4 separate regions of the Homo sapiens genome follow, and regions 2, 3 and 4 are each linked to region 1. Evidence: fine-mapped expression QTL. A gene starts in region 1. Each other region holds a variant in brackets. All regions are shown on one strand. Distances are from middle to middle. Region 1 holds the start of PROC (protein C, inactivator of coagulation factors Va and VIIIa). Region 2 overlaps ERCC3 (ERCC excision repair 3, TFIIH core complex helicase subunit). Region 3 overlaps IWS1 (interacts with SUPT6H, CTD assembly factor 1). Region 4 overlaps MAP3K2-DT (MAP3K2 divergent transcript).

The links. PIP is the estimated chance that this variant, and not a neighbour inherited with it, causes the effect.
Region 2: its variant is fine-mapped to the expression of PROC in whole blood (TOPMed, PIP above 0.99).
Region 3: its variant is fine-mapped to the expression of PROC in esophagus muscle (GTEx, PIP above 0.99).
Region 4: its variant is fine-mapped to the expression of PROC in whole blood (TOPMed, PIP above 0.99).

The regions. Positions count from the first base shown.
Region 1 is chr2:127,412,702-127,421,223 of GRCh38, forward strand. PROC (protein C, inactivator of coagulation factors Va and VIIIa) reads left to right here and starts at 5,726. Exons shown (of 9, transcript NM_000312.4): 1 at 5,726-5,791; 2 at 7,221-7,311. The coding sequence starts at 7,242. RefSeq lists enhancers at 2,687-3,449, 3,830-3,889.
Region 2 is chr2:127,265,020-127,271,780 of GRCh38, forward strand. It overlaps ERCC3 (ERCC excision repair 3, TFIIH core complex helicase subunit), which reads right to left. Exons shown (of 15, transcript NM_000122.2): 12 at 6,317-6,434. Among named protein-coding and RNA genes, the nearest start is that of ERCC3, 26 kb to the right of the region's middle. The variant C/T (reference allele first, on the strand shown) is at 1,885.
Region 3 is chr2:127,476,676-127,485,197 of GRCh38, forward strand. IWS1 (interacts with SUPT6H, CTD assembly factor 1) reads right to left here. Exons shown (of 14, transcript NM_017969.3): 14 at 4,137-4,500. The coding sequence ends at 4,369. Among named protein-coding and RNA genes, the nearest start is that of IWS1, 46 kb to the right of the region's middle. RefSeq lists an enhancer at 3,132-4,083. The variant C/T (reference allele first, on the strand shown) is at 4,275.
Region 4 is chr2:127,387,894-127,393,843 of GRCh38, forward strand. MAP3K2-DT (MAP3K2 divergent transcript) reads left to right here. Exons shown (of 4, transcript NR_187129.1): 2 at 988-1,105; 3 at 1,218-1,292. MAP3K2 (mitogen-activated protein kinase kinase kinase 2) reads right to left here and starts at 82. Exons shown (of 17, transcript NM_001371910.2): 1 at 1-82. RefSeq lists a silencer at 1-371. The variant A/G (reference allele first, on the strand shown) is at 3,219.

The DNA of each region.
Region 1 (8,522 bases):
TTTATAAACACTAGCAACAAACAATTGTAAGTTCAAATTTTTAAAATGCCACTTACAATAACATTTTTAAAACATGAAATAAGTAGGGATAAATTTAACAAAATATGTTCAAGACCTATACCTGAAAACAATTAAACATTGGAGAGAGAAATTAACAAAGAGCTGAATAAATGTAGAGAAATACCATGCTAATAGATGAGAAGACTCAACATTAAGATGTCTTTTATTCCTAAATTGTTCTATAGATTCAATTCAATCCAAATCAAGATTTCACCAGGAATTTTTTTTTTAGAAATTGAGAAATTGGTTCTAAAATTTATATAGAAGTAGAAAGGACCTAGAATAGCCAAAACAATTTTGAAAAATAAGAACAAAGTTGGAGGACTTACACTACTTGATTTCATGAGTTACTTGAATCTTGTAATAGCAATTAAGACATTATAATGTTGGCATAAAAATGAAAGATAGATTAACAGAACAAAATAGAGTCCAGAAGTAGATGTATGCATATACGGTCAATTGATTTCAACAAAGCACCAAAGCAATTCAATGGGAGAAAGGATAGTGTTTGCAAGAAATGGGACTGTGACAACTAGATCTCCATATATTTTAAAGAATGATTCTTGGCCCCTACCTCACACCATATACCAAAATTAACGAATTCAAAATGGGTCAGAGATGTAAATGTAAGAGTGAAAAACCATAAAGCTTCTAGAAGAAAACATAAGAGAAAGCCTTTGTGACCTTGAATAAGGCAGTGTTCTTTGGTAGGACACAAAAGCACGAATCATAAAAGAAAATGTTGATAATTGGACTTCATCAAAATTACAAACATCTGTTCATTAAAAGACACTGTTAAGTATAAAAGACAAGTCACAGACTGAGAGGAAATTTTTGCAAAATACTTAGCTGACAAAGGGCTTGTTACTAGGATACATACAAATTCTAAAAACTCAATTTAAAAAACCCTCAAAAACAAAGAAACAAACAAAAAACAGCCCAAAGACTTAAACTGGCACTTCACCAAAGAAGATATAAATAGCAAATTAGCACAGGAAAAGATGCTCAAAATCACCAGAGAAGAGGGAAATGAAAATTAAAGCTACAATGAGATACCACTACACATCTATTAAGAAGGCTAAAAATTGAAAATTAAAATTAAAAAACAACCGACAACACCAAATGCTGGTGAGGATGCAGAGCAACAGGAACACTCAGACATTGCTTGGTGGGAATGCAAAATGCCACCACCACTCTGGAAAAGTTTGACTTTATTTTTTTTTCCCAAAAGTAAACACGTACTCACCACATGACTCAGCAATCTTATTCCTAGATATTACCCAAGAGAAATGAAAACATATGCCCACACAAGGACCTATACATAAATGTTCTAGCAGCTTAATTTAATGATAGCCAAGAACTGGCAAATGGATAACAGATTGTGGCACATCTATATAATGGAGCCCAGTCAGCAATAAAAAGAAATAAAGTACTGATATAGAATTCCACATGAATAAATCTCAAAAGCTTTATGCTGAGTGAAAGAAGGTAGTCTTAAAAAGCTATGTACTGGTTGGGCACGGTGGCTCACGCCTATAATCCCAGCACTTTGGGAGGCTGAGGTGGGCGGATCACTTGCGGTCAGGAATTCAAGACTAGCCTGGCCAACATGGTGAAACTAAAAAATACAAAAATTAGGCAGGTGTGGTGGCGTGTGCCTGTAATTCCAGCTACTCAGGAGGCTGAGGCAGGAGAATCACTTGAACCCAGGAGGTGGAGATTGCAGCGAGCTGAGATCACACCACTGCACTCCAGCCTGGGCAAGAGAGCAAGACACCAACTCAAAAAAATATATATATGTGCTGTAGGATTCCCTTTATATGCTATTCTAGAAAATGCAGATTATAGAGATAGAAATCCAATCAGTGGTTGCCAAGAGTTGGGGTGGAACACAGAATTTCTGAGGGTGATGAAAATGTGTATATCATGATGTGGTGGTGGATGCACTATAACATACATTTGTCAAAACAAGCAGAACTGTACATTTTTAAAGTGTGAGTTTCCCTGTGTGTAAATTATACCACAATAACCTGACAACAACAAAAGAGAGAGACGTTGGACTGCATCCATCCCACTCCACTTCTTACCAGGGAGCTCCCGGGAGCCTCTCTAGTGTCTGTCCTCCCTGCCCTGCCTGGGGTGGGCTGAGCAGCACAGCGTCCCTGCAGAGAGAATGGAGAATGGGCAATGCCCACACAGGGGAGTGGCATGGGGTGAGAAGGAACCTTAGTCCCGTCAGCCCTGACCACCAGCCCATCTCTCATCACTGTTCAGCAGAGTGAGCTCAAGTTGGGTTTCTGGCATCTATTGGCAGAGCCAGGGCCAAAACGCAAGGGGTGGGGAGTGTTGTACAGGTTAGGGCTGACTGAATGATCAGCCCTAATCTGTACAACGGATCTGTGCAGTCTGAGCTTCCACACAGCAGCAGCTGTCCTTGACCCCTTCCCCTCCTAGTCGGCCCCTCCCTGACCTTCCCAGGCCTGTGGGAAGTCCTGTTAAGTCCCAGGCCATGTCCACTTTGTATAAAATACTTAAAAATAAGGCCAGGCACAGTGGCTCCCGCCTGTAATCTCAGCACTTTGGCAGGCTGAGGAGGGAGGATCACTTGAGGTCAGGAGTTCTAGAGCAACACAGCAAGACCTCCTCTCTCCTAAAAATTTTTAAAAATCAGCTGGGCGTGGTGGCACGGGCCTGTGATCCCAGCTACTGAGGTGGCTGAAACAGAAGAATCGCTTGAGCCCAGGAGATCTAGGCCGCAGAGAGCTGTGATCCCGCCACTGCACTCCAGCCTGGGTGACAGAGCCAGAGAGACCCTGTTTCAAAACTTTTTTAATTAAAAAATTAATAAAAGATTTAACGTGACCCTTATAACAGTCACCTGAGACGGACGCTGACCCCATTTTACAAATGTGGACATTGAGACACAGGGAAGTTAAATCCCCCTGTCAGAAAAAGGCTAGCGGAGGTTTAAGGCCGTGGGAACGTGACTCCAGAGCTGAGGGCTTTGGAACCCCGCCTGCTCCGGTAGTTGTGGCTGGCCTTGCCCCACACACATTTGGTTCTAGCTCCTTTGCTTGGGTCTTCATCCATGCAGCGAATTCCTTAGCCACAGGTGTCCCTCTGCTCTCTAACTCACAGCGAGCTCGCTGCCCAAAGTCCTGCTCCGGCTTCCTGGGTGGACCTGACCGCGTTCGGGTGCACGTGGGGCGACTCACACCTGACAAGTAAAGCGGGTGAGGCCGCGCCTGTGAAGGGCGCCTGGCTCCTCCGCAGGAGCGGTGCGGCGCGGCGCCCCCGGCTGGAACCAGGTGTAACTGCAGAGACCCTGGGATCGCAGGAACGGCTGGCGGCAGGACTGTCCCTACCTCGAGAAGGTGACGGGGTTTCCTGCGCTGCCAGCCGATGAGGCGGCCGTGACGCAGCCCGCCGTGCAGAGTCCCCGTCGGCCGACAGGCGTGCAGAGCTCTGCAGAGGACCCTTCCGCCCTCTGGGCAGCCTGCCAAGCCGTGGCACCCCCAACCCCCAGCACTGGGCACTTGGGAGCATTGCAGCCGCCCTGGCTCGTACCGGTGCCGGTGCTTTGGGCACCTGGGCTGGTTTGGACATGGGTGCCCCGGGCAGAGTCCATTTATGCAGGTCAGAATCAGTGTGTGGAGCCTGCATAGACTTGCCCTGGAGCGGCTGCCTGTGCTGGGGTGGGGAGGAGTAGAGGGCGAGAAGTTGGTGGGGAAGGGAAGCGGCGCCAAAAGAATACCCACAACATCTTGCACCTGGAAGGCAAAGCAGAGGGCAGTGATCTCTGCAGACTTGCGGGGGCGACGCCTGAAGCAAACAGGGACATACAAGCTGGTGCCTTCTGTGGTTGTGCATGGGGTCTTCATGCTTCCTGTCTGAGTTCCCAGAAGCTTGTCTCTGCTTTTCTAGGCAGCTGCCACAGCCTGTCACAAACAGCTCCTGGTTCTCCACTTCTCATAGTCTCGATTTCAAAATCCATTGCCTCACCCTCCACCTCCTCTCCACCTCCACCCCTCCTAGCACCTCCTGACTGCTTGTGTTCTGTGTCTCCCCACTGTCTCCCAACCTGGGGTGGGGTTGGGGGGGATGTCTTTCCTCCTGTCTGCTCTTTGATGTCCAGCTGAAGTGTCACCTCCTACAGGCAGCCTCCCCTGGCTATGCCAGCTTGTACTGATTGCCCTCTCCTCTGAATTCTGTAAGCATTTCCTATGTGTACCTGCCCCTGGGCAAGGTGGGCCTGACTTGTTAGAGTGTTAGAGTTTTACCCTGTTCCTCTAGGAGGGCCTGGTACCACCACAGCCCAGCATGGTGTGGTGCCTCAGCAGGAGGCATCTGGTTACAATCAACACAAGCTGTTCCAGCCAATTTAAAGAAACTTCAGGAGGAATAGGGTTTTAGGAGGGCATGGGGACCCTCCTGCACCCGAAGCCAGGATGTGCCACCAATCATAAGGAGGCAGGGGCCTCCTTCCGCTGCTCCCTGGGACTCTCTAGGTGTCCGTGGCCTCAGTCCCCCTCTGCACACCTGCATCTTCCTTCTCATCAGCTTCCTCTGCTTTAAGCGTAAACATGGATGCCCAGGACCTGGCCTCAATCTTCCGAGTCTGGTACTTATGGTGTACTGACAGTGTGAGACCCTACTCCTCTGATCAATCCCCTGGGTTGGTGACTTCCCTGTGCAATCAATGGAAGCCAGCGAGGCAGGGTCACATGCCCCGTTTAGAGGTGCAGACTTGGAGAAGGAACGTGGGCAAGTCTTCCCAGGAACAGGTAGGGCAGGGAGGAAAGGGGGGCATCTCTGGTGCAGCCCGGTTCGGAGCAGGAAGACGCTTAATAAATGCTGATAGACTGCAGGACACAGGCAAAGGTGCTGAGCTGGACCCTTTATTTCTGCCCTTCTCCCTTCTGGCACCCCGGCCAGGAAATTGCTGCAGCCTTTCTGGAATCCCGTTCATTTTTCTTACTGGTCCACAAAAGGGGCCAAATGGAAGCAGCAAGACCTGAGTTCAAATTAAATCTGCCAACTACCAGCTCAGTGAATCTGGGCGAGTAACACAAAACTTGAGTGTCCTTACCTGAAAAATAGAGGTTAGAGGGATGCTATGTGCCATTGTGTGTGTGTGTTGGGGGTGGGGATTGGGGGTGATTTGTGAGCAATTGGAGGTGAGGGTGGAGCCCAGTGCCCAGCACCTATGCACTGGGGACCCAAAAAGGAGCATCTTCTCATGATTTTATGTATCAGAAATTGGGATGGCATGTCATTGGGACAGCGTCTTTTTTCTTGTATGGTGGCACATAAATACATGTGTCTTATAATTAATGGTATTTTAGATTTGACGAAATATGGAATATTACCTGTTGTGCTGATCTTGGGCAAACTATAATATCTCTGGGCAAAAATGTCCCCATCTGAAAAACAGGGACAACGTTCCTCCCTCAGCCAGCCACTATGGGGCTAAAATGAGACCACATCTGTCAAGGGTTTTGCCCTCACCTCCCTCCCTGCTGGACGGCATCCTTGGTGGGCAGAGGTGGGCTTCGGGCAGAACAAGCCGTGCTGAGCTAGGACCAGGAGTGCTAGTGCCACTGTTTGTCTATGGAGAGGGAGGCCTCAGTGCTGAGGGCCAAGCAAATATTTGTGGTTATGGATTAACTCGAACTCCAGGCTGTCATGGCGGCAGGACGGCGAACTTGCAGTATCTCCACGACCCGCCCCTGTGAGTCCCCCTCCAGGCAGGTCTATGAGGGGTGTGGAGGGAGGGCTGCCCCCGGGAGAAGAGAGCTAGGTGGTGATGAGGGCTGAATCCTCCAGCCAGGGTGCTCAACAAGCCTGAGCTTGGGGTGAAAGGACACAAGGCCCTCCACAGGCCAGGCCTGGCAGCCACAGTCTCAGGTCCCTTTGCCATGCGCCTCCCTCTTTCCAGGCCAAGGGTCCCCAGGGCCCAGGGCCATTCCAACAGACAGTTTGGAGCCCAGGACCCTCCATTCTCCCCACCCCACTTCCACCTTTGGGGGTGTCGGATTTGAACAAATCTCAGAAGTGGCCTCAGAGGGAGTCGGCAAGAATGGAGAGCAGGGTCCGGTAGGGTGTGCAGAGGGCCACGTGGCCTATCCACTGGGGAGGGTTCCTTGATCTCTGGCCACCAGGGCTATCTCTGTGGCCTTTTGGAGCACCTGGTGGTTTGGGGCAGGGGTTGAATTTCCAGGCCTAAAACCACACAGGCCTGGCCTTGAGTCCTGGCTCTGCGAGTAATGCATGGATGTAAACATGGAGACCCAGGACCTTGCCTCAGTCTTCCGAGTCTGGTGCCTGCAGTGTACTGATGGTGTGAGACCCTACTCCTGGAGGATGGGGGACAGAATCTGATCGATCCCCTGGGTTGGTGACTTCCCTGTGCAATCAACGGAGACCAGCAAGGGTTGGATTTTTAATAAACCACTTAACTCCTCCGAGTCTCAGTTTCCCCCTCTATGAAATGGGGTTGACAGCATTAATAACTACCTCTTGGGTGGTTGTGAGCCTTAACTGAAGTCATAATATCTCATGTTTACTGAGCATGAGCTATGTGCAAAGCCTGTTTTGAGAGCTTTATGTGGACTAACTCCTTTAATTCTCACAACACCCTTTAAGGCACAGATACACCACGTTATTCCATCCATTTTACAAATGAGGAAACTGAGGCATGGAGCAGTTAAGCATCTTGCCCAACATTGCCCTCCAGTAAGTGCTGGAGCTGGAATTTGCACCGTGCAGTCTGGCTTCATGGCCTGCCCTGTGAATCCTGTAAAAATTGTTTGAAAGACACCATGAGTGTCCAATCAACGTTAGCTAATATTCTCAGCCCAGTCATCAGACCGGCAGAGGCAGCCACCCCACTGTCCCCAGGGAGGACACAAACATCCTGGCACCCTCTCCACTGCATTCTGGAGCTGCTTTCTAGGCAGGCAGTGTGAGCTCAGCCCCACGTAGAGCGGGCAGCCGAGGCCTTCTGAGGCTATGTCTCTAGCGAACAAGGACCCTCAATCCCAGCTTCCGCCCTGACGGCCAGCACACAGGGACAGCCCTTTCATTCCGCTTCCACCTGGGGGTGCAGGCAGAGCAGCAGCGGGGGTAGGCACTGCCCGGAGCTCAGAAGTCCTCCTCAGACAGGTGCCAGTGCCTCCAGAATGTGGCAGCTCACAAGCCTCCTGCTGTTCGTGGCCACCTGGGGAATTTCCGGCACACCAGCTCCTCTTGGTAAGGCCACCCCACCCCTACCCCGGGACCCTTGTGGCCTCTACAAGGCCCTGGTGGGCATCTGCCCAGGCCTTCACAGCTTCCACCATCTCTCTGAGCCCTGGGTGAGGTGAGGGGCAGATGGGAATGGCAGGAATCAACTGACAAGTCCCAGGTAGGCCAGCTGCCAGAGTGCCACACAGGGGCTGCCAGGGCAGGCATGCGTGATGGCAGGGAGCCCCGCGATGACCTCCTAAAGCTCCCTCCTCCACACGGGGATGGTCACAGAGTCCCCTGGGCCTTCCCTCTCCACCCACTCACTCCCTCAACTGTGAAGACCCCAGGCCCAGGCTACCGTCCACACTATCCAGCACAGCCTCCCCTACTCAAATGCACACTGGCCTCATGGCTGCCCTGCCCCAACCCCTTTCCTGGTCTCCACAGCCAACGGGAGGAGGCCATGATTCTTGGGGAGGTCCGCAGGACACATGGGCCCCTAAAGCCACACCAGGCTGTTGGTTTCATTTGTGCCTTTATAGAGCTGTTTATCTGCTTGGGACCTGCACCTCCACCCTTTCCCAAGGTGCCCTCAGCTCAGGCATACCCTCCTCTAGGATGCCTTTTCCCCCATCCCTTCTTGCTCACACCCCCAACTTGATCTCTCCCTCCTAACTGTGCCCTGCACCCAAGACAGACACTTCACAGAGCCCAGGAGACACCTGGGGACCCTTCCTGGGTGATAGGTCTGTCTATCCTCCAGGTGTCCCTGCCCAAGGGGAGAAGCATGGGGAATACTTGGTTGGGGGAGGAGAGGAAGACTGGGGGGATGTGTCAAGATGGGGCTGCACGTGGTGTACTGGCAGAAGAGTGAGAGGATTTAACTTGGCAGCCTTTACAGCAGCAGCCAGGGCTTGAGTACTTATCTCTGGGCCAGGGACTGTATTGGATGTTTTACATGACGGTCTCATCCCCATGTTTTTGGATGAGTAAATTGAACCTTAGAAAGGTAAAGACACTGGCTCAAGGTCACACAGAGATCGGGGTGGGGTTCACAGGGAGGCCTGTCCATCTCAGAGCAAGGCTTCGTCCTCCAACTGCCATCTGCTTCCTGGGGAGGAAAAGAGCAGAGGACCCCTGCGCCAAGCCATGACCTAGAATTAGAATGAGTCTTGAGGGGGCGGAGACAAGACCTTCCCAGGCTCTCCCAGCTCTGCTTCCTCAGACCCCCTCAT
Region 2 (6,761 bases), 150 kb before region 1:
TATTTTTAGTAGAGACGAGGTTTCACCATGTTGGTCAGGCTGGTCTGGAACTCCTGACCTCAGGTGATCCACCTGCCTCAGCCTTCCAAAGTGCTGGGATTAGAGGTGTGAGCCACCATGCCTGGGGCCATATTTTTTTTTTAAATTACTGATTCAATTTCTCCTTATTGATCTGTTCAGGGTTTCAATTAATTTCTGATTCAATCTTGGGAAGTTGTATGTTTCCAGGAATTTATCTATTTCCTCTAGATTTACTAGTTTGTGTGCACAGAGGTATTTTTAAGTCTCTGAGAATCTTTTGTATTTCTGGGGATCAGCTGTGATGTCACCTTTGTCATTTCTGATTCTGCTTATTTGGATCTTCTCTTTTCTGTTAATCTAACTAGCAGTCCATCAATCTTATTTATCTTTTTTTTTGAGACGGAGTCTCGCTCTGTCACCCAGGCTGGAGTGCAGAGGTGCGATCTCGGCTCACTGCAGCCTCTGCCTCCTGGGTTCACGCAATTCTCCTGCCTCAGCCTCCTGAGTAGCTGGGATTACAAGCATGCGCCACCACATTCGACTAATTTTTGTATTTTTAGTAGAGACGGGGTTTCTCCATGTTGGTCAGGCTGGTCTTGAACTCTTGACCTTGTAATCCGCCCACCTCGGCCTCCCAAAGTTCCAGGATTACAGGCATGAGCCACTGCGACTGGCCTTATCTATCTTTTCAAAGAACCAGCTTTTTATTTCATTGATCCTTTGTATTGTTTTTGAGTCTGAATTTCATTTAGTTCTGCTCTGATTTTAGTTATTTCTTTTCTTCAGCTAGTTTTGGGATTAGCTTGTTCTTATTTTTCTAGTTCCTTCAGGTGAAATCTCAAATTGTTAATTTGAAATCTGTCTTCTCGATGTAGGTGTTCAGTGCTATAAACTTTCCTAACAATACCTTTGCTGTACCCCAGAGATTTAGTATGTTGTATCTGTTTTCATTTGTTTCAAATAATTTTTGATTCCTGCCTTAATTTGTTTATCCAAAAGTCATTCAGGAGCAAGTTGTTTAGTTTCTATGTAATTGTGTGGGTTTTTTTTTTTCTTTTTTCTTTTATTTAGCGATGAGGTCTCGCTATGTTGCCCAGAATGGTCTTGAACTCCTGAGTTCAAATGATCCTCCCACTTTGGCCTCCCAAAGTGCTGCGGTTACAGGCATGAGCCACTGTGCCTGGCCAATTGTGTGGTTTTGAGAGTTCTTCCTGGTACTGATTTCTACTTTTATTCCACTGTGACCCAAGAAAATGCTTGGTATGATTTCGACTTTTTTGAATTTATTGAGTCTTTTTTTTTTTTTTTTTTTTTTGAGAGAGTCTCGCTCTGTTGCCCAGGCTGGAGTGCAGTGGCGCGATCTCGGCTCACTGCAAGCTCCGCCTCCCAGGTTCACGCCATTCTCCTGCCTCAGCCTCCCGAGTAGCTGAGACTACAGGCAACTGCCACCACACACCCGGCTAATTTTTTGTATTTTTAGTAGAGACGGGGTTTCACTGTGTTAGCCAGGATGGTCTCGATCTCCTGACCTCGTGATCCACCCGCCTTGGCTTCCCAAAGTGCTGGGATTATCGGCGTAAGCCACCACACCCTGCCGAATTTATTGAGACTTTAATAAAGTCGAGCATAAAGTCTCACATTGCTTTATGGCCAAACACATGATCAATTATTTTTTTTTTTTTTTTTTTTTTTTGTGACAGAGTCCTGCTCTGTTCCCCAGGCTGGAGTGCAGTGGCATGATCTTGGCTCACTGCAACCTCTGCCTCCCGGCTTCAAGTCAGTTCTCCTGCCTCAGGCTCCCGAGTAGCTGGGACTACAGGCGCATGCCGCCACACTCAGCTAATTTTTGTATTTTAGTAGAGA[C/T]GGGGTTTCACCGTGTTGCCCAGGCTGGTTGCAAACTCCCGAGCTCAGGCAATCTGCCGGCCTCAGCCTCCCAAAGTGCTGGGATTACAGGTGTGAGCCACGGCACCAGGCCCATGTGATCAATCTTAAGAGTATATTCTGGGGGCAGATGAGAATATATATTCTGTGGTTGTTGCGTAGAGAATTATGTAGATGCCTATTAGGTCCAATTGGTCAAGTGTTGAATTTTAAGTACAGAATTTCTTTGTTAGTTTTCTGCCTCTATAATCTGTCTCATGCTGTCAGTGGGGTGTCAAAATCTCCTACCATTGTTGTGTGGCTGTCTAAGCCTTTTCCTAGCTCTAAAAGTACTTGGTTTATGAATCTAGGTGCTCCAATGTTGGGCGCATATATATTTAGGATAGTTAAGTCTTCTTGTTGAATTGAACCATTTATCATCGTGTAATGACCTTTTTGTCCTTTTTTACTGTGGCTGGTTTAAAGTCTCTTTTATCTGATGCAAGAATAGTGACCCCCTGCCCCACTCTTTTTTTTTTTTTATTTGTGTGATAGATTTTTTTCCCTATCCCTTTACTTTGAACCTATGAGTCCTGTTACATGTGAGAGAGGTCTCTTGAAGACAGCAGAAGGCTGGGTCTTGTTTTTAATCCAATTTGCCACTCCAAGTCTTTTAGGTGGGGTGTTTAGGTTGTTTACATTCAAGGTTAATATTGAGACATGAGGCTTTATTCCTAACATGGTGTCATTAGCTGGTTGCTCTGTAGTTTGGATTGTGTAGTTGCTTTACAGGGTCTGTGGGCTATGTGCTTATGTGTATTTTTGTGGTAGCAGGTGTCACCATTCTTTCATTTCCATGTTTAGAACTCTCAAGACTCTCTTGTAGGGCCAGTCTGGTGATAACAAATTCTTTTAGCAGTTGCTTGTCTGGGAAAGATTTTATTTCTTCTTTGCTCATGTAGCTTAGTTTGGCAGGATATGGAATTCTTGGTTAGGATTTTTCTTTTTTATTTTTTTTCTTAAAGAGACTGGGTCTCACTATGGTTTTTTGGTTTTTGTTTTTTTGTTTTGAGACAGAGTCTTGCTGTTGTTGCCCAGGCTGGAGTGCAATGGTGCAATCTCGGCTCACTGAAACCTCTGCCTCCTGGGTTCCAGCAATACTCCTGCCTCAGCCTCCTGAGTAGCTGAGATTATAGGCACCTGCCACCACGCCCGGCTAATTTTTGTATTTTTAGTGGAGATGGGGTTTCACCATGTTGGCCAGGCTGGTCTGGAACTCCTGACCTCAGGTGATCCACTCACCTCAGCCTCCCAAAGTGCTAGGATTACAGGTGTGAGCCACCGCGCCTGGCCTGTTTTTTTGTTTGTTTTTGTTTTAAACAGGATCTTGTTCTGTTGCCCAAGGTGGAATACCGTGGTGAGATGTCAGATCACTGCAACCTCTGCCTCCCAGACTAAAGCGATTCTCTTGCCTCAGCCTCCGGAGTGGCTGGGACTACAGGCGCACACCACCACACCCAGCTAGCTAATTGTTGTATTTTTTGTAGGAACAGGGTTTCATCATGTTGCCCAGACTGGTCTCAAACTCCTGAGTTCAAGCAATCTGCCTACCTTGGCCTCCCAAAGTGCTGGGATTACAGGTGTGAGCCGCCGTGCCCAGCCAGGATTTCTTTTCTTTTCTTTAAGAATGCTAAAAACAGTCCCCCAATCTCTTCTGACTTGTAAAGTTTCTGCTGAGAAGTCTGCTGTTAGCATGATGAGTTATATGACCCTTTCTCTAGCTGTCTTTAAGATTCTTTCTTTTGTATTGACCTTGGAAAGTCTGACGGCTATGTGCTCTGGGGATGATCATCTTGTACAGCAGGAAGAGTCATTCTCACCCTCGATCTTAGCAACCTTAGCATATGATTTTTATTCCCTTGCTTAAATTAATAACTTTTACCTTTTCGCTTTAAGAAAGCACTTTACAGCTTCTCTGGCATATCTGAATTGCTAGCATCATTACACTTGTGCTTTGGGGCCATTAGTAAGATAAAGGTTACTTGAAAACAAGCACTGAGATACAGTGACAGTCCGTGACAACTGAGATGGCTACTAAGTGACTAATGGGTGGGGAGAATTTAAGCATGAATATGCCGCACAAAGCAAGAATTCACATCATGGATGCTACTCAGAATAGTGTGTAATTTAAAACTTATGAATTGTTTATTTCTGGAATTTTCCATTTAATATTTTTAGACTACAGCTGACCATGCGTAATTGAATGTGGAAAGGAAAATTGCAGATATGGGGGGACTACTGTATTAAAAAACTAGGACAGAAAATTCTGTGGCCTGAAAGACTTGATCCTTCAGGAAAATCTGAACATCTTTGCTTTGTAGTTCAAATGTCAGTAGGTTAAGCATACTGCCCTTGAATGTAATTGTTTCTCAAATCTTACAAGAGCTCAGAGATGCAAAGAAAGGAGCCAAGTGTCATGTTAAACAGTGTTTTGAGTAAGAAAACAATTCTATTCACTTTTTTTTTTTTTTTTTTTTTTGAGATGGAGTCTTGCTCTGTTGCCCAGGCTGGAATGCAGTGGCGCAATCTCGGCTCACTGTAAGCTCTGCCTCCCGGGTTCACGCCATTCTCCTGCCTCAGCCTCCCGAGTAGCTGGGACTACAGGCACCCGCCACCACGCCCAGCTAATTTTTTGTATTTTTAGTAGAGACGGGGTTTCACCATGTTAGCCAGGATGGTCTCAATCTCCTGACCTCATGATCTGCCTGCCTGGGCCTCCCAAAGTGCTGGGATTACAGGCGTGAGCCACCGCGCCTGGCCTTCTATTCACATTTAAGGGAGTTTTTAAGGCTAGGCACAGTGGCTCACACCTGTAATCCCAGCACTTTGGGAGGCCAAGGTGGGTGGATCACTAGAGACGAGCCTGGCCAAAATGGTGAAACCCCGTCTTTACTAAAAATACAAAAAAAATTAGCTGGACGTGGTGGTGCACGCCTGTAGTCCGGGTACTCGGGAGGCTGAGGCAGGTGAATCACACTTGACCCCAGTAGATGGAGGTTGCAGTGAGCCGAGATTGTGCCACTGCACTCCAGCCTGGGTGACAGAATAAGACTCTATCTCAATCAATCAATCAATCAATCAATCAATAAAGGAGTTTTCAAATTAGAGTAAGGAATAAGTAATGAATTATATTCACATTTGCTAGCAGATCATAGTCCTGTCAGTTTATAAAAGCTACTGTCTCAGCCTCCCAAGTAGCTGGAACCACAGGTACACACCACCACGCCCAGCTAGTTTTATTTTTTGTAGAGATGGGGTCTCACTACATTGCCCAAGATGGTCTCAAACTCCTGGGCTCAAGCTATCCTCCTGCCTTGGCCTCCCAAAGTGCTGGGATTATAGGTGTAAGCCACTGTGCCCAGCCAGCCGACTACATTTTATGACTTATAAGCTGAATCCTCACAGCAGTCTTGGCAAGACAGGATTGTCACCCCCACTTTGGATGGGAAAACCAAGTCTCAGAGGAGAAAATAATTTGCCAAAGGTGACACAGCTGGCTTGGTGCCTGAGTCCATGCTATTTCTAGTCCATGCTATCTGCCTCATCTCCATTTTAAATACAAGCTACTAGACGCTTCTTAAACACATCTGAACGCAGTACAGTTCCAACAGATGCCCACTAATCTTGTCATTTTCAAACATTCTAGCAGTCCAGATGCCTCCTTGAATAAGCAGACTCCTTGAGGATAGGGCTTGTGTCCTTGTCTCAGGATGTGCCCTGGTCCCAGTAAGACAGACACGGCCATCTCTTAGCAAGAGTGTCAGTCCCTGCCATGTCCACAATGGCAGTCTGGGCCCTTTTACCGCAGTAAGCAAGCACAGGGGTGCCACGCCTCCTCAGAAAAAGCCTTTGCAATGAGGATTCTCACCTCCTCACTCACTGAGCTTGCCCTGCCCCTGCTGCAAGCTGCCACCAGGGCGGCACTCTGCACAGGTTATGAATGACGTGCCCATTGTGTGTCTGCCCAAGCTGCTCCTACCAAACCTTTCCCTGCCTCCTGATCAAGTTCCAGAAGCAGCTTCCAGCTCCTCCACTTACACTGGTGGCCCAGCTCTGTTTTCTCCCTTCCATGTCTACCCCATAAGCACTGCCTTGCCCTGGCTCCCTCTCACCATCTACCAACACAGCTGCACAGTGTACAGAGCACATCTGTGTGGATTCCGTGACACTGTCATGGAAAACACCTGCATATTCACCCCCAAGGTATGAGAAATAATGATGGGCCATAAGGATCTAGGTCTTTGCTTTGGGATTCTCTCCCTCCAGAGTCTATTTAGCCCCAGGGCACATGGCAGCTCTCACCCCTATCGTCTTCCTAACTAAAGTGGTTTAAGAGGAGTGACCTCCTGCAACAGAAGATGAAAGGCCACTTTACCTTTTTTAGCTCGAAGCACCCGCCCTAGCCTTTGGGCTTCCTGACGCCTGGAGCCACCATGGGATGAGATCTGAATGAGGACATTTGCTTCCGGCAGATCAAACGAAGTGTCACCTACCTACAGAAACAAGTTGGAAGGTTTTTATATATGAGGAAAAAAAAAAAGTCAACTGATCCAGAATTTAAATAAGTTCTGTAGATAATTTTGAAACATAATCACTCTTTTCTCCTCTTTATACCAGGGTCTATCTGATGCAGGCAGAGAGAGGTGAAGCAATAAACCTCAGAAAGGCATCTCTGGGTCTCCAGGACCTTGTGTGAGTTCTGCTAAGAGTCATCCTGAAGAATTAATACCAGGCATCAGTGACATTCAGTGCTGGGTGCCAGGAGCCCAGAGATGAGAGGGCCCTTGAACAGAGACTGACTTTGAGTCATTCATTTTTTT
Region 3 (8,522 bases), 64 kb after region 1:
AGGGGGATCGCTTGAGGCCAGGAGTTGAAGAGCAGCCTGGGCAACATAGCAAGACCTCAACTCTACAAAAAAAATTATCCGGGCATGGTGGCACACACCTGTAGTCCTAGCTATTTGGAAAGCTGAGGTGGGAAGACTGCTTGAAGCCAGGAGTTTGAGACAAGCCTGGACAACAAAGGGAGAATCTGAATCAAAAAGAAGAATGAAAAGAAAGAAAGAAAAAGAAAAGGAAAAAAGGAAAAGAAAACTACAAAACATTAAGGAAATTAAAGAAGACACCAATAAATGAAGATATTCCATGGTCATGATTCAAAGACTTAATATTGTTAAGAAGTCAATACTACCCAGAGCACCTCTACAGATTCAATGCAATTCCTAACAAAATACCAATAATGTTTACTGCATATATAGAAAAATCCATTTTAAAATTCACATGAAATCTCAAATAGCCAAAACAATCTTGAAAAACAACAAAGTTGGAAGACTCACACGTCCTGACTTCAGTGGGGACAGACACACAGACAGTTCTATATTGCAACATGCAGACCAATGGAAAAGAAGAAAGTCCAGAAATCAACTCTTACACATATGGTCAAATGATTTTTGAAAAGACTTGCAAGACCATTCCATGGGGAAAATAAGTTTTTTTCAGTAAATGTTGCTGGGGAAACTTGATATCCATATGCAAATGGATAAAGTTGGAACCTTATTTTACACAACATACAAAAAATCAACTAGAAATGGATCAAAGACCTAAACATAAGAACTAAACTTACAAAATTATAGGGTAAAAGCTTCATAATATTGAATTTGGCAATAATTTTTTTGATATGACACCAAAAGCACAGGCAATAAAAGAAAAAAGTGAGATACAGCAAAATTTAAATGTGTGCAACGAAGAACACAATCAAGAGTGAAAAGGCAATCTAAAGAATGAAAGAGAGTATTTGCAAATCATATAGCTGATAAAGCATTAACATGAGTACACAAAGCACTCCTACAACTCACACCAAACAACCCAATATAAAACTGGGCAAATGACTTGAATAGACATTTCTCCAAGGAAGATATATAAATGGTCAAAAAGTACATTAAAAGATGCTCTACATCACTATCATTAGGGAAATGCAAACTAAAATCACAAGATACCACCTCACATCACTTAGGATGGCTACCATCAAAAAATAAAAATAACAAGTGTTAGCAAGCATATGGAGAAATTGGAACTCTTGTGTACTATTGGTGGGAATATAAAATTGTGTAGCCCCTTATGGAAAGTGTATGTATGGCACTTTCTAAACAAATTTAAAATGGAATTACCATATGATCTAGCAATTCTACTTCTAGGTATATAACCAAAAGAATTGGAAAAAAAAATGGTTGTTTTTTAATATCTCTAAAAGTGAAGAAAAAAAGGTCTTGAACAAATACTTGTACACCCATGATCACAGCAGCGTTATTCACAATAGCCAAAGGTGGAGGCAACCCAAGTGTCCATTGACAGATGAATGGACAAACAAAATGTGGTATATACACACACTGGAATATTATGCAACCTTAAAATGCAAGGAAATTTGGACACATGGACAAACCTTGAGGACATTATACCAAGTGAAATAAGACAGTCGCAAAAAGACAAATGTATGATTCCACTTATATGAGGTACCTAGAACAGACAACTCGTAAGAGACAGAAAGTAGAATGGTGGTTGCCAAGAGCTTGGGGGAGGAAGGAGAGTTCTTTGATAGGTAGAGTTAAAATTTTGCAAGATGAGAAGATTTCTGAAGATGAATGGTGGTGATGGCGATACATTGTGAACATACTCAATGCCACTGAGCGGTAAAACTGTTTAAGATAGTAAATCTTAAAACCGGAAGGGGAAGAAAAAAAGCCAAGCATGAGAGTGCATGCCTATAGTCCCAGCCACTTGGGAGGAGACTGAGGCAGGAAGATTGCTTGAGCCTGGGAGTTCAAGGCTGCAGGGAGCTAGGATCACACCACTGCACTTCAGCCTGGGCGACACAGTAAGAACCCATCTCTTAAAAAACAAACAAAATCCCCCACAACTCTGTATCATCATAGCCAAGTTGTCAAAGTTAGTATCATCAATTCTGGGACAAAACTAAAGTCTATGTTCTTGGAAGAAATATGCTGAAGTATTTGGGGCTCAAGGGGCAAGTTGTCGGCAAGTTACTCTGAGTCTGCAAAAATAGCTCTATGCATATACAAGATGACAGAGTCAATGACGTGGCAAAACGTTAACACTTGGTAAATATCAGTGAGTATACCGGAGTTTATTTACTATTTTTGCAACTACTATAAATTGGAAATATCTTCAAAATTAAAGGTTTTTCTGGCCAGCTAGGTTTGAGCTGCCATAAAACCAACACCAAGGATCATTTATATAGAAACTAATTTTTTCCTTCAAACACAGTACAGGAGAATCTCTTACCATTTTGAATTCCCCGGGTATGGTTTAAAACTTTTTACTTGCCAACATCGTTAAAGTTTTACCCTGTAATAGTGAAATTTTCAGGTAATTGGAGCTTACCCCATTAAATGACAAAATTGTGTAACTTAAAAATCTTTCTTAAATACAACCTTTGTTGTCTTTGTTTCAAATTTATTTTTTAATGATCAGTGTAAGGCTTCACTAGATGCCTCTGCTTTTTCCTTCTCAAGTGTTTTTGAGGGTATTTGTATGAAACATTGCAGAAAAGCTTAGGTTTTTGTCTCCATCTAGTGGCTAGCTATTACCTTCTAATGCCTTTATGCACCTGCTTTTTACAAAGCACTATATCCCACTGTGCTTCTGCGTTTGCTGGAAGTAAATAGTTTGAGAGTTTCTTGTGAGCAGTGTTTTAGTATCTAAACTTCATTATTTTAGCTGTTCAAAGGCTTTTTTGGCCAAAAGTAGTTTTATGTGTTTCTGAAGATCAAGGTGCCAATCCGTATCAGAATAGGATTTCTGAAATTAAAATAATCTAGTTGATAAAACGTTCTTGGGCCTCGTCATCTTGACCTTAAGAGACCTCTCATAATTAAGTCTATAGAGACTATTATCACAAAAATAGAGCAACAAGAAACATAGCTACAAGCTATAATTTTTCTCTCTCCTCTAACTGCTCAACTGCTCTAAGCTTTCGGCATAGTGATTTTCAGTTATATCCATATTTCCTTGAAGACAGTAGTATTTCTTGATCTTTTCTCTGTTATAAGCCCCCATCCCAGAGAAAAATGAAAATCAAAATAATTATCCCAAATAAGAGAAACACATTAATAAGATTTTGTTGGTATTCCATTTCCACCCCAACTGAGGTACTGCAATTCAATTCTGATACGACACACCCAGAGCTGGCATCAGACTCCACGGGTTTAAGAGGTCAGTCCTCCACAATACTGCCCCCACTTCAGATGCAAGCCACAAGTGAGGCATCCAGGCTACTGTCGCTTCTGACCAGCTACAAATTTGGGGTTCTCATAAACCTCTCAGGTTTAAGAACTTGCTGAAATGACTCACAGAACTCAGGAAAGCACTATCCTTCCCTAGAAAACACTATGATTAGTTTTACTACAGAAGATATGAATTAGGAGGGCCAGTCAAATGAAGGGATACATAAGGGAAGGTCTGGGAGGGAAGGCAGAGCTTCTGTGCCCCTGTCCTCATGGAGGGGAATCCTCTCCCTCCCAGCACACCAATGCTTTCACCAACCAAGAAGCGTCATTGAGCTGTGGGGTCCAGAGCTCTTCATCAGGTCCCATTTGGCAGGCATGGTTGATTAAATCAAACAGGTCACTGACTGCGTCTCAATCTCCCGGGTCCTGCTGGCCCAACCCTCTGTAGTAGCTGTTTCTGGTTACCAGCCTCCACCCTAAAGCCCACCATACAGTCACCTCGTTAGCATAACAAGAGACGCTCTATCACTCAGGAAACCACAAGTGTTTTAGACATTCCTTGTCAGCAACCAGGGGCAAAGGCCACACAAATTCCTCATTATACCACAATGAGGGAGGATTGAACCTCTAAGGGTCACAAACCCCTATAATATCATAAGATTTTTTCCCACACAACAAGAAACAATCTTTGCCCCTATTAAGAATGTATCCTCTAAGAAATGAAGAGACAGCCCCCCAAAAACCAGAATGAAATTTTATTGTGTAAAGTTTATAGAAGTATGACTAGTATTCCTTTGTACAAAGTACACAACGGTTTTAAATATAACTGAGAGAAATGTGAGTCCTATGACAACATCTGATACACGCTGAACCATTTA[C/T]AGACACACTAAAAATGTTTTAAAATATCTTCTTTCTCCAAAGAGTCCATTGCGCATTTCTTAGAGTAGAGATGGGGACACATTCCAGGCAAGGTCACAATGGCATTTTGTTGCCCTCAATGCTGATTTTCACTGCGTGTGCAGATCTGCTTTTTTTCCTTATATCTGTGAACTTTCTCATCTGTTTATCCAGTCGACTGATACCCTTCTTGGAGGTCGCCTGAAACTAAGAGTAAGGGAAAAATTAAAGAGCAAACTACTGAAATACGTAAGTCTAGTTATGTCTTTCATCTTCTTATAACTGAGTTAGCAACCAGAAGAGCTTCTAGCTCTGGAATAACCAGAATGTGTGTTGATGACCTCAAGAACAACAAAGCAAGTATAGATGGTGTTAGAAACGCATATTAAACTCTCTCAGTGAAGAATAATTCTGTTGTCTGTGCTTTATTTTTAATTTTGCTGCAGTCCATGGAGGTCTCCTAGATGGGAGAAAGGGGGGGGGAAACTGAGACTATGATCCTCCCAATTCCATCATGTACATTACGTTTTAACTGCATGCGTTTCCCTTTCGAAGACCAAATGTGGAGCTAGCCGCTTGACATGCACTTTCAAACAGTGCTGGCATAAAAAAGAATGACCTAAAGCAAAGTCAGGTCAGCTGAGAAAAAGCCTTAAGCATAATAAATGAGGTTAGATGATTAGTGAAGTAAACCCCTAAGTGCAGGAGCTCTTGAGTTTTTACACTTGGGGTGAATCCCTGCTCTAATTCAGTAACTTCTGTGACCCTGGGCAAAGCATACCCAGGGTAGGTACTCCTTCCAGAACTGCTGAGAGAAGGAAATGAGATAGTGATGTCAGATCCAAGCACAGAGGCTGAGCACATATAGTCAGTGCTCAAAATAATAGGAGCTATTACTATTTTACTACTTCACAAGCAACTAGATTTACATTAAGTATACTTGACACAAAAAGAATATTAAGTCTTTACCCATTTGCCCTTCATGTTTAAAGGTTTGGTTTGGGGGCTATTTTATATTTTGAAAATACTGCCTTGCAAAGATGTGGTCTCCAAGAAACTGCCATCTTTTAGAAATGCTAGAAAGGTTTGCTGACTCTGTTGTAAAACAATTCAGATGTTTAAGAATGATGACTGCTTAAAAAGAGATGGGTTTTTCTAATTCTTCTCCCCATACATTTACTACTGAATCACCTCTGAAACTCAATTCAAAAGAATGCTAAAATAAGGTAGGGCCTGGGAGACACTCTGGGGTCAGTACCAGCCTGGTGAGCTTTGGTGGAATCTTATCCCACCTGTGGACCCAGCCTCAACTATGACATGAAGCCAGCTGAGCACTAGGCAAGGAACTCTAAGTCATTCTTGACCAAGAGCCATGTTGACCTGTCTTTCTAGGAATATCTCAATTCAAATATTATTCTGTATCGTCTCAATACTTGGCATTCGTACTCTGAGTAAGCATAAAAAGTGTCAGATGAGAAAGAGCTATGCCACCATCACACTATCTCCCAGATTTCCTGGACAGTCCCAAATATCTGACTTCCTTTTAGAGGATGTGCCGTGATCTTAGTACTTGTACTTGGTCCACATCGGAAGCTTTACCTGCTCAAATCTCTGCCAACTACACAATTCCCAGCAGCTTCACACATTAACTGGACTTCCCTTCGCCTACTCCCAGGACCCTCACTAACTGTCTAAGCCCTGATGGATCTGTCTAGCCTCAGCAATCAGGGCACACACGGGCCAGTGGGTTACAAAATATATGACTGGTAGTTGCAGATGCCTACTTACCCCAAGCTTGAAAAGACAGACCAGAGTACCTCATACACCAAGTTCAATGATCTCTCTCCTGATTCATCAAGGGAACGCTACACTTCCTTAGAAATTAAGAGTGTGTGCTACACTGCTTTACCAGAGCAAGGCCAAAAGCAGCTTCAATTATGGTACAACTGTGTGAAGACACAATGCAAAACCACTCAAGAATGCTCACTCAAATGGATTTTTACCATGGTAAGTAAAAAACAAACCCAATAAGGTATAAAAGAATACAATCACAATGTCGCTTGAAAAAAAAACAAAAAACAAAACAAAAACCCAGTAATTGTCTATGCATATGTATGAAAAAAAAAGAAATAATTTAAAATGTTAACATTAAGTTGTGGTGGGATTACAGATGGCATTAATTTTATTTATGCTTTCTGTATTTTTAAAAGTTCATGAAAAAATAGGCATTCCTTTGTCATTTTACTGTTATTTTAGAAGTATTCCACGGAGTAAATGAACATATAAAAAATACAATGTAGCACAGGTTACTACATTATTTAGGAGTAAAAAATCAGAAATCATAAACGAACGAATAAACACATTATATTCATGGCCGGGTGTGGTGGCTCCCGCCCGTAATCCCAGCACGCTGGGAGGTCAAGGCCAGAGGATCGCTTGAGACCAGCCTGAGCAAGATGGTGAAACCATCTCTACAAAGAAAGAAAATACATAATAAAAAAAAAAGCAAATTATATTCAGGATAGACCATTATGCAGCCATTAAAAATGATAAATCGACTAGGTGGTTTAATGAAGGAAAATAACCAAAATTATAATTTGGTCGGGGCGGGGGGTGGTGGGGTGGGGGGGTTGGGCTGTGTGTGTGTGTGTGTGTGCGTGTGCGTGTGTGTGTGTGTGTGTTTTCTAGAGATAGGGTCTCACCTAGGCTGGAGTGCAATGGCATGATTCTAGCTCACTGCAGCCTCAAACTCCTGGGCTCGAGTGATTCTCCTACCTCACCCTCCCAAGTAGCTAGGACTACAGATGTATGCCACCATGCCCGGCTAATTTTTTAATTTTTTGGTAGAGATGGAGTCTTGCTATGTTGTCCAGGCTGATATTTAGTATAATTTTAATTAACGTTATCAGTAGAAAAAAGACAACAAATACATCAAACTGCTTTTGAATGCTAGGACCATGAATAATGTTTCTCTTTGTACTTAAACATTTTCTATAATTATAAAAACTAAGTTCAAGGCATATCTGGAAATACATTTAAAACCTCAAATTGTTAGCCGGGCATGGTGGCTCACACCTGTAATCCCAGCACTTTGGGAGGCCGAGGCGGGCAGATCACTAGAGGTCAGGAGATCAAGACCATCCTGGCTAACACAGTGAAACCCCATCTCTACTAAAAATACAAAAACAAAGTTAGCCAGGTGTGGTGGTGGGCGCCTGCCCTAGTCCCAGCTACTCAGGAGGCTGAGGCGGGAGAATGGTGTGAACCCGGGAGGCAGAGCTTGCAGTGAGCAGAGATTGCACCACTATGCTCCAGCCTGGGCGACAGAGTGAGACACCGTCTCAAAAACAAAAACAAAAACAAAAAACAAAAAACCCTATTTATTTTTTATATTTATTTACATAACTTTGAAAACAAAAATGATACTTAAGACAAAAAGTGTTTCATTGGAAACCCATTTCCATTTCTTTTCCTGGACATGTCTTTTCTAATACTGCTCATTAGCGTCTACAATGTGGAAGCAAGTCCTGAGTGAATATGCAACCCTGCTCCACCTATGGGGAAGTGGGACCAGAACCAGAAACATCAGCACACAGGGACACAGCCCTGGAAACACAACCTCTGCTTTCAAAGCAGATTGGCCACTAAGAGTTTTTATTACCTATTTTCTTTGCCATATTGTAGTTCCCAATTCTCAAAAATAAAAATGTTAAGAGAAATATGAAAGACGGCTAAAAAGAGAGAAGAAACAATGAAAAAGGAGATGGCTCATGCCTGTAATCCCTTTGGGAGGCCGAGGCGGGTGGATCACGAGGTCAGGAGATCAAGACCATCATGGCTAACAGGATGAAACCCCGTCTCTACTAAAAATACAAAAAATTAGCCGAGCATGGTGGCAGGAGCCTGTAGTCCCAGCTAACTGGGAGGCTGAGGCAGGAGAATGGTGTGAACCCAGGAGGCGGAACTTGCAGTGAGTGGAGATCGCACCACTGCACTCCAACCTGGGCGACAGAGCAAGACTCCGTCTCAAAAAGAAAAAGAAAAAGAAAAAGAAAAAGGACAGAAGGGCAAAAAAGAAACAGGTACAGGGGACATGGAGAGGTGGTCAGGGACACGGATATGGGCACAAGAAAGAGGAGGGAGAGAGAGAGGAGGAAGTTCTTGGCACAGAACTAGTCCTTCTCTACCCTCGATTTATTCTCAAGAAATAAGAAAGTACGTTTTGTTTT
Region 4 (5,950 bases), 26 kb before region 1:
GCGCCCAGCGGCCGCGGCACCCTCGTCAGGCGCCGCCGCTGAGGGCAGGCAGCCCGGCAGCCACTACACACGGACCCGTGACGTCGGGCGTAGCGCGGCGCACGTCACGGCCGCTCGCTCGTGCGCGCGCACCCCTCCGCCCGGCGGTAGCGGAACCCGCCGCGGGCGCGCGCCCGGCCCAGGGGAGTGGGTCGGCGCCTGCGCAGAGGCCCGCCACGCCCACACACAGGCCACCGCCCCCACCGGCCGGACGGCGCGGGGATTCCCAGTCCTGGCTCCGCCCCGGCCTCGGCCCCGCCCCCGCCCCTGCCCCGGGGCAGCCTGTGCTGTTCCGTGTGCGCGGCGCATACGCACCTGGGTTGTCTCGAGCCTGCGGTAGTGGCCAGATCCCAGACATCCGAGTAGATCCCGTGAAAAGGTCTCCCACGTGGGCTGTGGACAGGGCCCAAGGGTAGCAGAGCTAGCAGAGGCAGTGACGGACTGTGTGGCAGGTCATTTGCAAGGAGAAAAGCCGTCTGCCTCTTAATTTGTGGCTCAAGTTTCAGAATTTTTTTCCTGAGGGACTTTAGAAATTACTTCAGGCTTGCCACCTAACCTTAAACCACCCCCTTGGAGACTGGCTAAGTGTTATTTGTGTTTTCTGTTTAGTTCTTATCACCATCGATACTTGGTTATGACTGGTTGTGTACATTGGTTAGCCCAGCAAGTATTACTTCTCCAGCTTAACAGATGTGGAAACTTAAGCCCAGAGACATGAGTTGACACCCCACCCCCAAAGCTAGAGTCTAAAACCCTTTCTTTCGCTCCTCATCTCCCACAGGATAAAATGCAAATTAATCAGACTAGTGGTGAGGCCCTCCGTGGTGTGACTAACCTGCATCCCGACGTTTTCACCCTACTTTGATCCAGAAAGCACCTTTCCGCCCCATCTCTTCTCCTTTCCTTAAATACCCCTTACAACTTCCTGTACCATTCTTCCCTGTTCAGCTTCTTCTTGGTTTCTTCGTACATTCTGGATCCACCCCTTTCATGCATATTCCAGACCACATTTCCACTGGAGCAGTTGAAATGAGAGAGATGGGAATGGGACTCACCCGAACCAGAGGTAAGGAGCTACCCAACTTGGGCTCTGAGGGTCAAGGGAGCTGGCACTTGTGGGGCAGAGACTGAGGGAGAAACTGTTGTGTAATGTCAAAATATCTCTGGGTTTCTTCCAGGAATTTTTATTACAGACCCATTAACAGAGGTGTCAAAGTCACAGGAACAAGGATGTGCACCTCAGAAACACAGAGGTCAGTGGAAAATCAGTTTGCTTCTATTTGTTTAAAAAATGGGGGACTTATGCATAAATCTAAGACCTTCTTGAATCTAACATTCTAAGACCTGTATGCCACAGAAAGGAGGGTCTCAGAACGCCGGAGGATAGTATTTAAATCTTAAATATCTATATTGTTCTCCACAGTTACTGGGTCACCACATAGCAGGCATTCAATAAAAACGTGTTTGTTTACTAAGTAATCTAGAGATAAATTTTTTCCCCTCATAGTGCTGCTCATTTCTCCACTCCCTTCCCTCACTTACCACCCCGGGGACTTCATTCACCTCTGGGTTCCTCAGAAACATCCCGTGGGTATAGTTATAGTAGCTATTCTTTCTTTTTCGCCATTCTCCTTTTATATTGGTGACTTTTCCTCTTGCTTAGATATTAAATCTCTGACATCTTTGGTTATTTTAGTATATATGATTACAAATTAGTGATATTGGGATTTTTTTATTGATGAAACCATCATTCAATGAATATTTTTTTGCCTTCCTACTCTGTGCCTGGGATTGCAGTGATAAAATTATATAGTCCCCACTGCCCAGGAACTCAGAATCCTGTGAGGAAGGCAGACAGGTAAATGGATAATGATAACACACTGTGACCTGCATCATGGGAGGGATGTGTATCAGGCACCACAGCAGCAAGAGGAAGATGTCACAGGTGTGTCTGGGGAAGTGAGAGATGACTTCAGAGAGGAAATGTGGCATGTTCCTTTTCTGTTGCTGCATAACAAACTGCCACAAACTTAGTGACTTAAAACAGTGTCTGTTTTTTAGCTCCCAGTTATACAGATCAGAAGTTTGCACAGGGGCAAGGCTGAGTTCTCTACTCAGGGTATATTGCAAGGCTGAAATCAAGGTATCAGCTGGGCTGACTTTTTATCTAGAGGCCCTTGCAAAGATCTTCCAAGCTCATTCTTCTTTGGGGCACAATTCAGTTTCCTGTGGTTGTAGGATTGACATCCCTATTTCCTGGGCCTGCCTTCAGTTCCTAGAGGTCACCTGCATTCCTTGCCACATGACCCCTTCCATCTTGAAAGCCAGCGACAGAGACCTTCTTGCGTGCCAAACATCCTCCTACATCAGATCTCTCTCTAACTTCCTCTTTTGCTACCAGCCAGAGAAAACTCTCTGCTTTTATTTTTATTTATTTTTTTATTTTTGAGACAGAGTCTCACTCTGTCGCCCAGGATGGAGTGCAATGGCGCAATCTCGGCTCACTACAACCTCCGCCTCCCAGGTTCAAGTGATTCTCCTGCCTCAGCCTCCTGAGTAGCTGGGATTACAGGCACCCACCCCCACGCCCAGCTAAGTTTTGTATTTTTAGTAGAGACAGGTTTTCACCATGTTGGTCAGGCTGGTCTCGGACCCCTGACCTCGTGATTTGCCCACCTTAGCCTCCCAAAGTGCTGGGATTACAGGCATGAGCCACTGCACCCGGCTTTTAGAGAGTTCATATGATTAGATCAGGCCCACTGAGATAATCTATTCTTAACATCAACAGTGTCACATAACATAACCTGATCATAGGAGTATAATCCATTATATTCACAGTACTGAGGGTTATGCAGGCTATGTACACCAGCCGTCAGGGATCTGCAGGGACATCTTAGAATCTTGCTGGCCACATATTGTGCCATGGCTGGCAACTGAAACTTGAACGGGGGTAGTTATTTGCTGGAAGAAATAAGGATGGAGGAGTACGCATTCCAGGCAGAGGGAATCAAGTGTGTCCAAGCTTGGAAGTATGAGGGAACGTGCCCTGCCTAGGAATGGCAAGAGTTGCTGGCCACTGGGTGTTGAGAGAAATGCAGGCAGGGGGTGAAGCTAGAGAAGGAAGAGAGCTGCCAGGAGATTGGGAAGGAGGAATATTAGAGCAGGCCAAATTGCTGGGA[A/G]GGGAGATGAAAGTCTAAAGGTCTAAACCACAGCTGTGGCCATGAAAATGATACGAGTACTATTGGTTGGGATGCATTCAACTGCAGCGAGCAAGACACCTGGCCCAAAACAGCTTAAACAGTGAGGTTGATTTTGTCACATAACAAAAATCCAGTGGATGGATCCAAGGTTGGTTAGGGCTGTGAACAGGCATATTGAGAATCAATGGACGGCCACCTCAGCTCCAAACATGACCTCCCACACAGTAAAGAAGGGGGAACCATCCCTCTGTTTCTTTCCCTCATTCTTTTTTAAAATAAACTTTTTATTTTAGAATGTTGACGAAAGAGTCAAACTCTATAAAATATTTGAAGAGATTTGTTCTGAGCCAAGTATGAGTGACCATGGCCTGTGATACAGCCCTCAGGAGATCATGAGAACATGTGCCCAAGGTGGCCAGATTACAGCTTGGTTTTATACATTTTAGGGAGACATGAAGCATCAAGCAATACATGTAAAGTGTACATTGGTTCAGAAAGTCAGGACAACTGGAAGTGGGGGCTTCCAACTCATAGATGGATTCAAAGATTTTCTGATTGGCAATTGGTTGAAAGAGTTACTATCAATAGAAGATAATTTCTGGGTTACCGTAAGGGGTTATGGAGACCAAGGTTTTATCATGTGGATGAAGCCTCCAGATAGCAGGCTTCAGAGACAATAGATTGTACATGTTTCTTATTGAACTTAAAGAGTCTGTTCTGTCAGAAATTCCAAAAGGGAAGAGGGTAGAATGAGGCATGTCCAGCTCCCCCTTTCCTTCACAGCCTGAACTAGGTTTTTCAGGTTAACATTGGAGTGCCCTTGGCCAAGAGGAGGGGTCTATTCAGGTGGTTGGGGGCCTTAGAATTTTATTTTTTGTTTACAAGAACAGTTTTAGGTTTACAGAAAAACTGAGACAATAGTACAGAGACTTCTCCTATACCCACATTCAGCATTCATTTTCTCCTATTGATATGGTTTGGCTTTGTATGGCCACCCAATCTCATGTCAAATTGTAATTCCCAGTGTTGGAGGAGGGGCCTTGGTGGAGGTGATTGGCTCATGGGGGTAGATTTCCCCCTTGCTGTTCTTGTGATAGCAAGTGAATTCTCACAAGATCTGGTTGTTTAAAAGTGTGCAGCACTTCCCCCTTTGATGTTTCTCTCTCCTGCTCTGCCATGGTAAGATGTGCCTGCTTCCCCCTCACTTTCCATCATGATTGAAGTTTCCTGAGGCCTCCCAGCCTTGCTTTCTGTACAGCCTGTGTAACTGTGAGTCAATTAAACCTCTTTTCCTCTTAAATTACCCAGTCTTAGGTAGTTCTTTATAGCAATGTGAGAACAGACTAATACACCTATTATTACGAACTTGTATTATTAGTATAGTACATTTGTCATAACTAGTGAACCAATATTGATGCATTGTCATTAACTGAAGTCCATACTTTATTCAGATGTCCTCAGTTTTTTCCTAATGCCCTTTTTGTGTTCCAGGAGCCCACACTATGCTTAGTCATCACGTCTCCTTAGGCTTCTCTTGGCTGTGAGTTCCCTTGTTTTTGATGGCCTTGTGCTAAGGAATACTGGTTAGGTGTTTGGTAGAATATTCTTCAATTGTGAATCATGTAATGTTTTTCTCATGATGACACTGAGGTTATGGGTTCTGGGGAAGGAGACCACTGAAGTAAAGTGCCATCTTTATCACATCCTATCAAAGGTAGTCCATTGTCTTAGTCCATTTTGTGCCCTGTAACAAAATACCACAGACTGGGTAATGTGTAATGAACAGAAATTTATCTCTCACAGTTCTGAAGGCTGGGAAGTCCAAGATTGAGGGGCCCACATCTGGCAAGAACCTTCTTGCTGTGTCATCCTGTGGGGGAAGGGCAAAGAGAAGATGAGAGAAAGAGCAAGAAGAGTCAAACTCATCCTTTTATAAGGTGCCCACCCTAGATAATGACATTAATCCATTCATGACGGCTCTCCCCTCATAACTTAATCATAACTTAAACACCTCTTAAAGGTCCTACCTCCTAACATTGTTGCATTGGGGATCAAGTTTCCAAAACATGACCTTTGGGGGACATATTCAAACCATAGCAGGTATATACTGTCAGTATGATTTATGACTTGGTGTTGAGCTTGATCACCTGCCTGAGATAGTGTTTGTCAGGTTTCTCCCCCATAAAGCTACTCTTTATTCACCTCTTTCCATACTATACTCTTTGCAAGGAAGTCACTATGCTCAGCCCACACCTAAGGAGTGGGGAGCTATGCTCCACCTCCTTGTGTGTGAAGTATCTGCATAAATTACTAGGAATTCTTCTGCATGTGAGATCTGTCTCTTCTCTCCTGTTTACTTATGTAATCTTTTATTTATATTAATATAGAATTGTGGGTATATAACTTATGCTCTGGGTTATAATCTAATACTACATTACTTATTTTGTTGCTCTAATTATTCTGGGTTTGGCCATTGGTAGCTCTTTGATTTGTCTCCTGTGTCCCTTTGACACCCATCATTATGATTTTTTTTTTCCTTTTTCAGCACTTCTTTGCTTTCTGGCACTGCCAGCGCTCCAAAATCATCTTGAATATTTCCTGTCCCAGTCTAGAATCAGCCATTTTTCCAAAGGGCCCTGGTTTCTTTTGTTGGAGAATGGTGTTAGAGACCAATATCTGGTGCTAGGTGTGCTAAGGATTCTCTTTTCATT